2 separate regions of the Homo sapiens genome follow, and region 2 is linked to region 1. Evidence: fine-mapped expression QTL. A gene starts in region 1. The other region holds a variant in brackets. All regions are shown on one strand. Distances are between the middles of the regions.

Region 1 (4,396 bases):
CCATACCCGAGGGGTCTACAGCCTATATTCAAGATGGAAGGAAACACTACATTTTGGTTAGAGGAATGTGAAAATTTACACGAGCCCTTCTCATGGGCCCCTAAACTTGGCTGATGGAACTGTGGGTAATAAACTCAGAAGGAGTCAAAGGCATCAAGGTTGCTCATGAAAGAGCTGAGGTTACCAACTCAAGTGTAGACAAGAAAAGAGAGAGGAAAAAAATGGTAGCTCGGCAGGGAGGTCAGAGGGATAGCCAGGCTTAGTTTCCAGACATCCAGGAAAAGGACACCCATCTGAGTAATGGATTGAGAGTCAGTATTAAGATACGGAGAAATATCAAGGAGAAACATTAGTGGCTAACGCTGGACATTTCCACAGCTCTCACATAACCAGAAAAACTTAGCTTAATTTTAGTAACAATGTCAGAAGCACAAGCGTGCTGAGAATTAAGAACAAGGCCTTTGAAGAATGTGGGGACTGTTTTATAAAGCACTGAATCTTCACACCTCATGAAGACAGAGACCTGGAGCCTACAGGTGTCTCATTCACACTATGAAATAAATCCTACAAAAGTAAGAGATCCACTAACTTTTTAAAGGATTTAGGAAGATATATATATGAAATCAGCCAGGTGCGGTGGATCACACCTGTAATCCCAGCACTCTGGGAGGCCGAGGCGGGCAGATCACCCCAGGTCGGGAGTTCGAGACCAGCTTGACCAACATAAAGAAACCCCATCTCTACTAAAAATACAAAATTAGCTGGACGTGGTGGCACATGCCTATAATCCCAGCTACTCGTGAGGCTGAGGCAGGAGAATCGCTTCAACCCGGGAGGCGGAGGTTGCAGTGAGCAGAGATTGCACCATTGCACTCCAGCCTGGGCAACGAGAGCGAAATTCCGTCTCAAAAAAAAATAATAATAAAAAATAAAAGTTGTTTCTTTCACAAAAGTTACTCTACATACGTGCTCCAAAAATAAGATTTCAAAGACACTGGGGAAAATACTACTACTAAGATATCAAAACCAGGAACTTACTTCCTTTAAAACAATTCCAAACTAACTCGCTGCGCCTTTCACAGAAATTTCCCACAAGAAATATGATTTTATAAAGCCTGAGAAGTTGCTGCTGTTAGGAAAACCACCAAAACTAAAAATTGGTTTAATTAGCAACAACAACAAAATGCCATTTTAACTGGCTGTCCTTATCAGAGACAGTCCACTAAATAATGCAACTGGCAAAACGTGAGATTTTTTAAAGGGTGGGGTGCTTTATTATAAACATAATATAAACCAGGAATGTATTTTATTTAATAAACCTCAACCTGCCGGTCACTCCCTCCCTTCGAGGCGTTCTGCAACAGAACACCTGGCTAGAAATAAAAGGGCGTTTTACCCCAGTGGGATGAAAAAGCCCCGTTTTTTACCTTTAATCGCGAGACAATACGGGTCAGAGGTCAGGAAATTATGTCAGCACCAATGCGGGCGCCCACGAGTGCGGTGGACCGATGTGGAAGGGCCGGGACGCAGCCCGAGTCCCAGTTCCCGCCGTAGCGATGGCCGATTTCCCAGCCGCGGACGCTGAAAGCGAGGACTCCACGCCGATGACCCTTCGGCGTACCATGTCCGGCGGGCGCTTGGCCAAACAGCCCAAGACTGCGGAATCACACTCGCCACTGTGTACCTGGACGCCATCTGCAGACCCAGCGCCTGCGGGGATTCCGGAAACGGGAGAGCGGGCTTCCGGAAACGGTGACCAATGGGAAACGTGATCAGATGTTACTAGGCGAACAGTCCGTTTCCAGGCAACACAGAAGGAAGAGACGCTCTCAGTCACCCTAAAATAGACGGAGCTTTCAGCCAATGGATATGCAGGTTTGCTCCAGATTAGCCAATAAGAAGTGTTTGGGGCCGGCCGAGCGCGGCGGCTCACGCCTGTAATCCCAGCACTTTGGGAGGCCGAGGCGGGCGGATCACGAGGTCAGAAGATCGAGACCATCCTGGCTAACACGGTGAAACCCCGTCTCTACTAAAAATACGAAAAATTAACCAGACGTGGTGGCGGGCGCCTATAGTCCCAGCTACTCGGGAAGCTGAGGCCGCAGAATGGCGTGAACCCGGGAGGCGGAGCTTGCAGTGAGCGGATATCACGCCACTGCACTCCTGCCTGGGCGACAGAGCGAAACTCGGTTTCAAAAAACAAAAGAAGTGCTTGTGGCCGACCTTCCTACAAGCACAGCAGAAACTTTCCTGCGCATTTCTGCGCTGGAACGCCTACCCGCCGCGCCAAACCAAAACTTTGCAATCACGTTTGGTGCTGTTTCCTGCACTTTCTTGGAGATTAGCACCAGGCGCTGGAGACCCTCCCACCTCGCCCACGCCCACCGCCCGGTGAACACCGAGACCCAACCTTGTGCACCGCCAGTCTTGTGATCAACAAACAGGCTAGTAAAGTATAAAAATAAAATAAAGGAAATGTAGTCGGGCGTGGTGGCGTGCGCCTGTAATCCCAGCTACTCCGGAGGTTGATGCAGGAGAATCGCTTGAACCTGGGAGGTAGAGGTTGCGGTGAGCCGAGATCGCGCCACTGCATTCCAGCTTGGACAGCAAGAGCGAAACTCCGTCTGAACATAGTAAAATAAAATAAAGGAAATGGGGCCGGGCGCGGTGGCTCACGCCTGTAGTTCCAGCACTTTGGGAGGCCGAGGCGGGCCGATTACTTGAGGTCAGGAGTTAGAGAACAGTCCGGCCGCCAACATGATGAAACCCCCGTCTGTACTAAAAATACAAAAATTAGCCAGGCGTGCTGGCGGGCGCCTGTAATCCCACCTAGTCGGGAGGCGGAGGCACAAGAATCGCGTGAACCGGAGAGTTGGAGAGTTGGAGAGTTGGAGAGTTGGAGAGTTGGAGAGTTGGAGGTTGCAGTGAGCCGGAGGTTGCAGTGAGCCGGAGAGGCGGAGGTTGCAGTGAGCCGAGATCCCGCCCCTGCGCTCCAGCCTGGGCGACAGAGTGAGACTCCGTCTTAAAATAAAATAAAATAGGCCGGGCGCGGTGGCTCACGCCTGTAATCGCAGCACTTTGGGCGGCCGAGGCGGCTGGATTGCCTGAGCTCAGGAGTTCGAGACTATCCTGGGCAACGTGGTGAAACCCCGTCTCTACTAAAAATACAAAAATTGGCCGGGCGCGGTGGCTCACGCCTGTAATCCCAGCACTTTGGGAGGCCGAGTCGGGTGGATCATCTGAGGTCAGGAGTTCAAGACGAGCCAGACCAACATGGAGAAACCCCGTCTCTACTAAAAATACAAAATTAGCCGGGGTGGTGGCGCATGCCTGTAATCCAGCTACTCGGGAGGCTGAGGCAGAAGAATCGCTTGAACCCGGGAGACGGAGGTTGCGGTGAGCCAAGATCGCGCGCGCCATTGCACTCCAGCCTGGGCAACAAGAGTGAAACTCCGTCTCAAAAGAAAAAAAAAAAGAAAAAAACAAAAACAAAAATTAGCGGGGCATGGCGGCGCATGCCTGTAATCCTACCTATTTGGGAGGCTGAGGCAGGAGAATCACTTGAACCCGGGAGGCGGAGGTTGCAGTAAGGGAAACTCCGTCTTTAAATAAATAAGTAAAAAGGAAATGGATAGAGGAAACATTAATGCATGAAATCAAACAAATGCTTTCGCTGAAGGGCTCCATCTTTGCAAAACCGAACCTAGGACAATGTGCACGTTTGTAACTAGCAATTCCGTAGGACAGATCGGAGAGGCAGCATGAACTTGATTTTCTGTAATTTAAGAGTTGTCAGTAAAGTCAGTGTTTGCAGGCATTTTCAGTGTTCTGCAGTGGGCTTCAGTTCGGCAGTGTGGCAGGCCAGGTTTCCATTAGCAACCAGAACAGTTTCCATTAACACTTTACTATAATTTTGATGAATGCATAAGTTAAACGTTAAAGAAATTGAGAAACTGGTGCCTGAGTATCAGGGATGGAATGCGAAAACGAACCCATTAAGACCCCGCCTGGGTCCTCTCAGACCCTAAAGTCTGATCGAATAATAATAGTATTCTTACACATTCACCTGGGCCTGTCTTAAGATTCAGAAACTTTCCAAGACTCTAGAGAAATCTTTCCAGACCCTAGACCGTAGTTAAAGATTAGATGTTGATTGAATGCAACATTTCTGCTTGTAGGTGCAGTCCCACCATAGCATTGAGCTTAAGATGTATATAAGCACTAGAAAAAAACTTGAAACTTTGAGTTGGTCTGGTGAGTTACTTGGCTTCTCCGTCTAACCGGTTGCAGAAATAAACTCCTTTCTTTCCCAGTCTGTCTGCATCTTATTGGACAATCGCGACGGACCAGCTCAGCAAACTCCTCTTTTGTGTGGTTATCTGGGACTCTCTGGGAG
Region 2 (4,396 bases), 35 kb before region 1:
GTTTTCCTAACTGATGACTAAGGAACTTGAATACCTTTGTTTTAATGTGCATTGTCCATTTGGATATCTTCCTTTGGGAAGTGCCAGTTCAAGTTCTTAGCCTAGCTGTTGGGAAACTTGTCTTTCATTGTTAATCCTTAAGAGTTCTTTGTATAATCTGAATGAGTCCCTTGTCAGCTTTGTGTATTGTATATATCGTCTCCTAGCGTAAGGTTTGCATTTTTACTCACTGTCTTTTTTTTTTTTTTTTTTTTTTTTGAGATGGAGTTTCGCTCTTGTTGCCCAGGCTGGAATGCAATGGTGCGATCTCGGCTCACCGCAAGCTCTGCCTCCCCGGTTCAAGTGATTATCATGCCTCAGCCTCCTGAGTAGCTGGGATTACAGGCATGCGCCACCATGTCTGGCTAATTTTGTATTTTTAGTAAGAGACAAGGTTTCTCCATGTTGGTCAGGCTGGTCTCGAACTCCTGACCTCAGATGATCCACCCGCCTCAGCCTTCCAAAGTGCTGGAATTACAGGCATAAGCCACCATGACCAGCCCATTCACTCTTTTCTGATGAACAAAAATTGCTTTTTAAAATGTAGTCTGATCATTATCATTTTTCTTTTATGGTTTGTACTCTGTATCTTATTCAAATCTTTGCTTATCCCCAAGGTATGAAGATATTCTGTATTTTCATCTATATTTATCTGTCACATGTAGGTATATAAACCTGGAATTGATTTTTGTGTCGTGAGGGGAAATCATGATTTGTTTTCCTCATATAAATTCAGTTGACCTGGCACCATGTATTCAAGACCATCCTTTCTTCCATGTTATTTATTTGCTCTGAAATCTATGGTGTCTTGATATTATAGCCACCTAAGCATTATTTTGATTATGATTTGCATGGTATATCTTTTGCTATCCTTTTACTTTTAAGCTTCCTATACCACTATATTGGGGAAACTGACACCTTGAAAATTATCAGCCTTTCATCCCATGAATGTGATAAATTATTTCATTTGTTTAGGTCTTCTTTAACTATTTGTAGTAATTAATATAAAGACATTGTACAGGCCAGGTGCGGTGGCTCATGCCTGTATTCCCAGCACTTTGGGAGGCTGAGGCAGGTGGATCACCTGAGGTCAGGAGTTCGAGACCAGCCTGACCAATATGGTGAAACTCTGTCTCTACTAAAAATACAAAAATTAGCTGGGCATGATGGCTGGTGCCTGTAGTCCCAGCTACTCGGGAGTCTGAGACAGGAGAATTACTTGAACCCGGGAGGCGGAAGTTGCAGTGAGCCGAGATTGTGCCACTGCACTCCAGCCTGGGTGACAGAGCGAGACTCTGTCTCAAAAACAAACCAACAAACAAAAGATATTGTATGTTACATATATTGTTAGATTTATTTATAGGAATTTGAATTTTTCCTGCTAAGTGCTGTCATTTTAAATTTCCTACTTTTTGCTTGTATGTTGAAATTTAATTGACATTTTGCCCTGTTTGACTTACATTTGTATTCATTTTTTTTTTTTTTTTAGAGAAGGTCTCATTCTTTTGCTTAATCTGGCCTCAAACTCCTGGCCTCAAGGCAGTCCTCCTGCCTTGGCTGTAGTCCTAAACATTTCTAAATTTCTTCCCCTTGATTTTCAGCTTGAAATGACACCCTTTATCTCTCAGTTATCACAAATGAGGCAATCAATGAGCTAGTCTATTTTCTATTCTCTAACCTTCATTTCTATATTAGTTATCTATTGCTGTAAAACATATTACCCTAAAACAGAAATAAATATTTATTATCTTAACACCATTTTCTGTGGACCAGGAGTTCAGGAGTGGCTTAGCTGGGAAGTTCTGGCTTGGGGTCTCTTGAGGTTGCAGTCACACTCTTGGCCAGGGCTGCTATCATTTGAAGGCATAACAGGGACTAGAGGATCACCTTCCAACGTGGCTCTCACATGGCTATTGGCAATAGACTTCAGTTTCTCACCATGTAGACCTCTCCATGGGGTTTCTTAAGTGTCCCTGTGATACGTCAACTGGTTTTCTCCAGAGCAAAAGGACAGCAAGAACGCATAAGCTGGAAGCCACAGTGTCTTTTATATCTATCTCATACTCTATCATTTCCGCAGTACCTTATTGCTATACAAGTTAATCCTATTCAGTATAGGAGGCAGCTACACAGTGTTGTGAATACCACATACTGGGTACCTTTGGGGCCATCCAGGATGCTGGCTACCATAATTCCGCTTTTACTATTTTATTTAGATTTGCATTTAAATATGTTCAGCATCACTACTATTCTTTTGCTGAAACTTTCACTATTGTTCTTTTGTGGCTGGAGTATGTCTTCTAGTAGCTTCTTCTGAAA[C/G]AGCGCATGTCAACAGTATTTCCTAAGTTGCATCATAAAACTCCTTATATCCTTTATACTCGAATGACAGCTTGGCTGGATATAAAAATGTTTTGACTCCCTCATTTGTTTTTTTCACAAGTATATTGGAAGATTTACCCCACTGTTTGGGGTACTGAATTTAGCACTGCAGAAGTCTGATGACAATTGAATTTCCTTTTTCTTATATTTGATATTTTTATCTTGATTCCCCATGAGTTTTAGTCTAATTTTATTAGGTCATGTTTTGCTACTATTTTGGTTCATTTTCACCTGTAATATGGTTTCACTTTTCATCACGTTTATTTATACTCTATTTCAGGAAATTCATCTTGAGTATTAAAACTGTAGTGTTAGATACACAGCTACAACCATCGTTTTAGATATATCCTCTTAATTTGGATTTCATTTTTAGGTGCTCTGCGTTTTGCATATTGGATCTCTCTTTTCATTTTCATTTCTTCAAATGATTTTTGTTTCTTTGTTAAATTTTGTTCTGTTCATTAATTTCTGTATTCTGTGTTCCATACTATACTTTCTGTGGCATTTGTCAGATCTTATGCGCCTAGAGATGGGGGTCTCACTGTGTTGCCCAGGCTGGCCTCAACCTTGAACTCCTGGACTCAAGCAATCTTCTAGACTCAGTCTCCCAAGTAGCTGGGACCACAGGCACATGCCGCTGCACTAGCTAGTTTATTCTTCATTTCTGATGTGACTTAGCCTATTTTCTCTTTCAGTCTTGAATTCCACTAACTCCCATCTATGGTCTATCTATTACTTTCTTCTCTCTCCTGAGATCGTATATTTTTGCTTGTGGTCTGCTTTTAGAGCTGCAATTGCATCATACTTTTTTTTTAATTCAGACTGAAATGTTGGGTGATGATTTTCATCTTCTCTGATTTTTTTAGTGAGTTTTTTTGTACATGGGGGATTTTGACACACTTTTAAAACTTTGTGTGTTTTTTGTTGTTGTTGTTGTTGTTGTTTTGAGATGGAGTCTTGCTCTGTTGCTAGGCTGAAGTGCAGTGGCGTGATCTTGGCTCACTGGAACCTCTGCCTCCCAGGTTCAAGTGATTCTCCTGCCTCAGCCTCCCAAGTAGCTGGCACTACAGGCACATGCCACCACACCTGGCTAATTTTTTGTATTTTTAGTAGAGACAGGGTTTCACCATGTTAGCCAGGATGGTCTCGATCTCCTGACCTCGTGATCCGCCCGCTTTGGCCTCCCAAAGTGCTGGGATTACAGGCGTGAGCCACTGCACCAGCCTAAAACTTTTATCTAACTATCTTACGCATGTTATATCTAATTTATATTTTGGAGAGGATGTAATAGATTTTCCTGGAATAGCTGTCACTGGTATTTTCATGTGAAAAAAGTGAATGGGGCAAGGGTAGTTTTTAAGGTTTTTTTGCTCAAGGGTTTCTTCCTCTGTTACCCCAGTAGAAGACAATTTTTTTAAAATTTGGTTCCCTTTGAATAGCCAGGCCTTCTTTACCATTCAGAAGCTCAACTGGTTCAGGAGGACTCCTATTATCAGCTCTGAGTTCACCCAGTGTCTTCTACTATAATTAAGGAATACAGCCAAGTCCCCAGCTCATTTTATGAGGCCAGTATTTCCCAGATACTGAAACGAGACAAAGTATATCTCATAAGAATATGGGTGTAAAAATCCTCAACAAGTAGTAGCAAACCAAATCCAGTAACATCTAAAATGAATTATATAACATGACTGAGTGGGATTTATCCCAGAAATGCAAGGTTGGCTCACCATCAAAAGTCAGTTAATGTGATACATCATATCAATAGAATAAAAAAACAAAAATCACACAATCATCTCAATAGATAGAGATAAGGCATTTGACCAGAGCCAATACCCTTTATGATTTTTTTTAAAACATACACATTCTACAAACTAGGAATAAAGAGGAATTCAACCTGATATCTAGGAAAAACCCACAGCCAACATCACACTTAATGGTAAAAGACTGGATGTCTTCCCTCTAAGATCAGGGACCAGAC

The links. PIP is the estimated chance that this variant, and not a neighbour inherited with it, causes the effect.
Region 2: its variant is the best candidate, but not a certain one, in a credible set for the expression of ZNF790-AS1 in whole blood (INTERVAL, PIP 0.73).

What each region holds. Positions count from the first base shown.
Region 1 is chr19:36,794,843-36,799,238 of GRCh38, reverse strand. It overlaps ZNF790-AS1 (ZNF790 antisense RNA 1), which reads right to left and starts at 1,689. Exons shown (of 6, transcript NR_040027.1): 1 at 1,428-1,689. RefSeq lists an enhancer at 1,398-1,467 and silencers at 1,888-2,047, 2,058-2,127.
Region 2 is chr19:36,830,106-36,834,501 of GRCh38, reverse strand. All of the region lies in intron 1 of ZNF790 (zinc finger protein 790), which reads left to right. Among named protein-coding and RNA genes, the nearest start is that of ZNF790, 6.1 kb to the left of the region's middle. The variant C/G (reference allele first, on the strand shown) is at 2,359.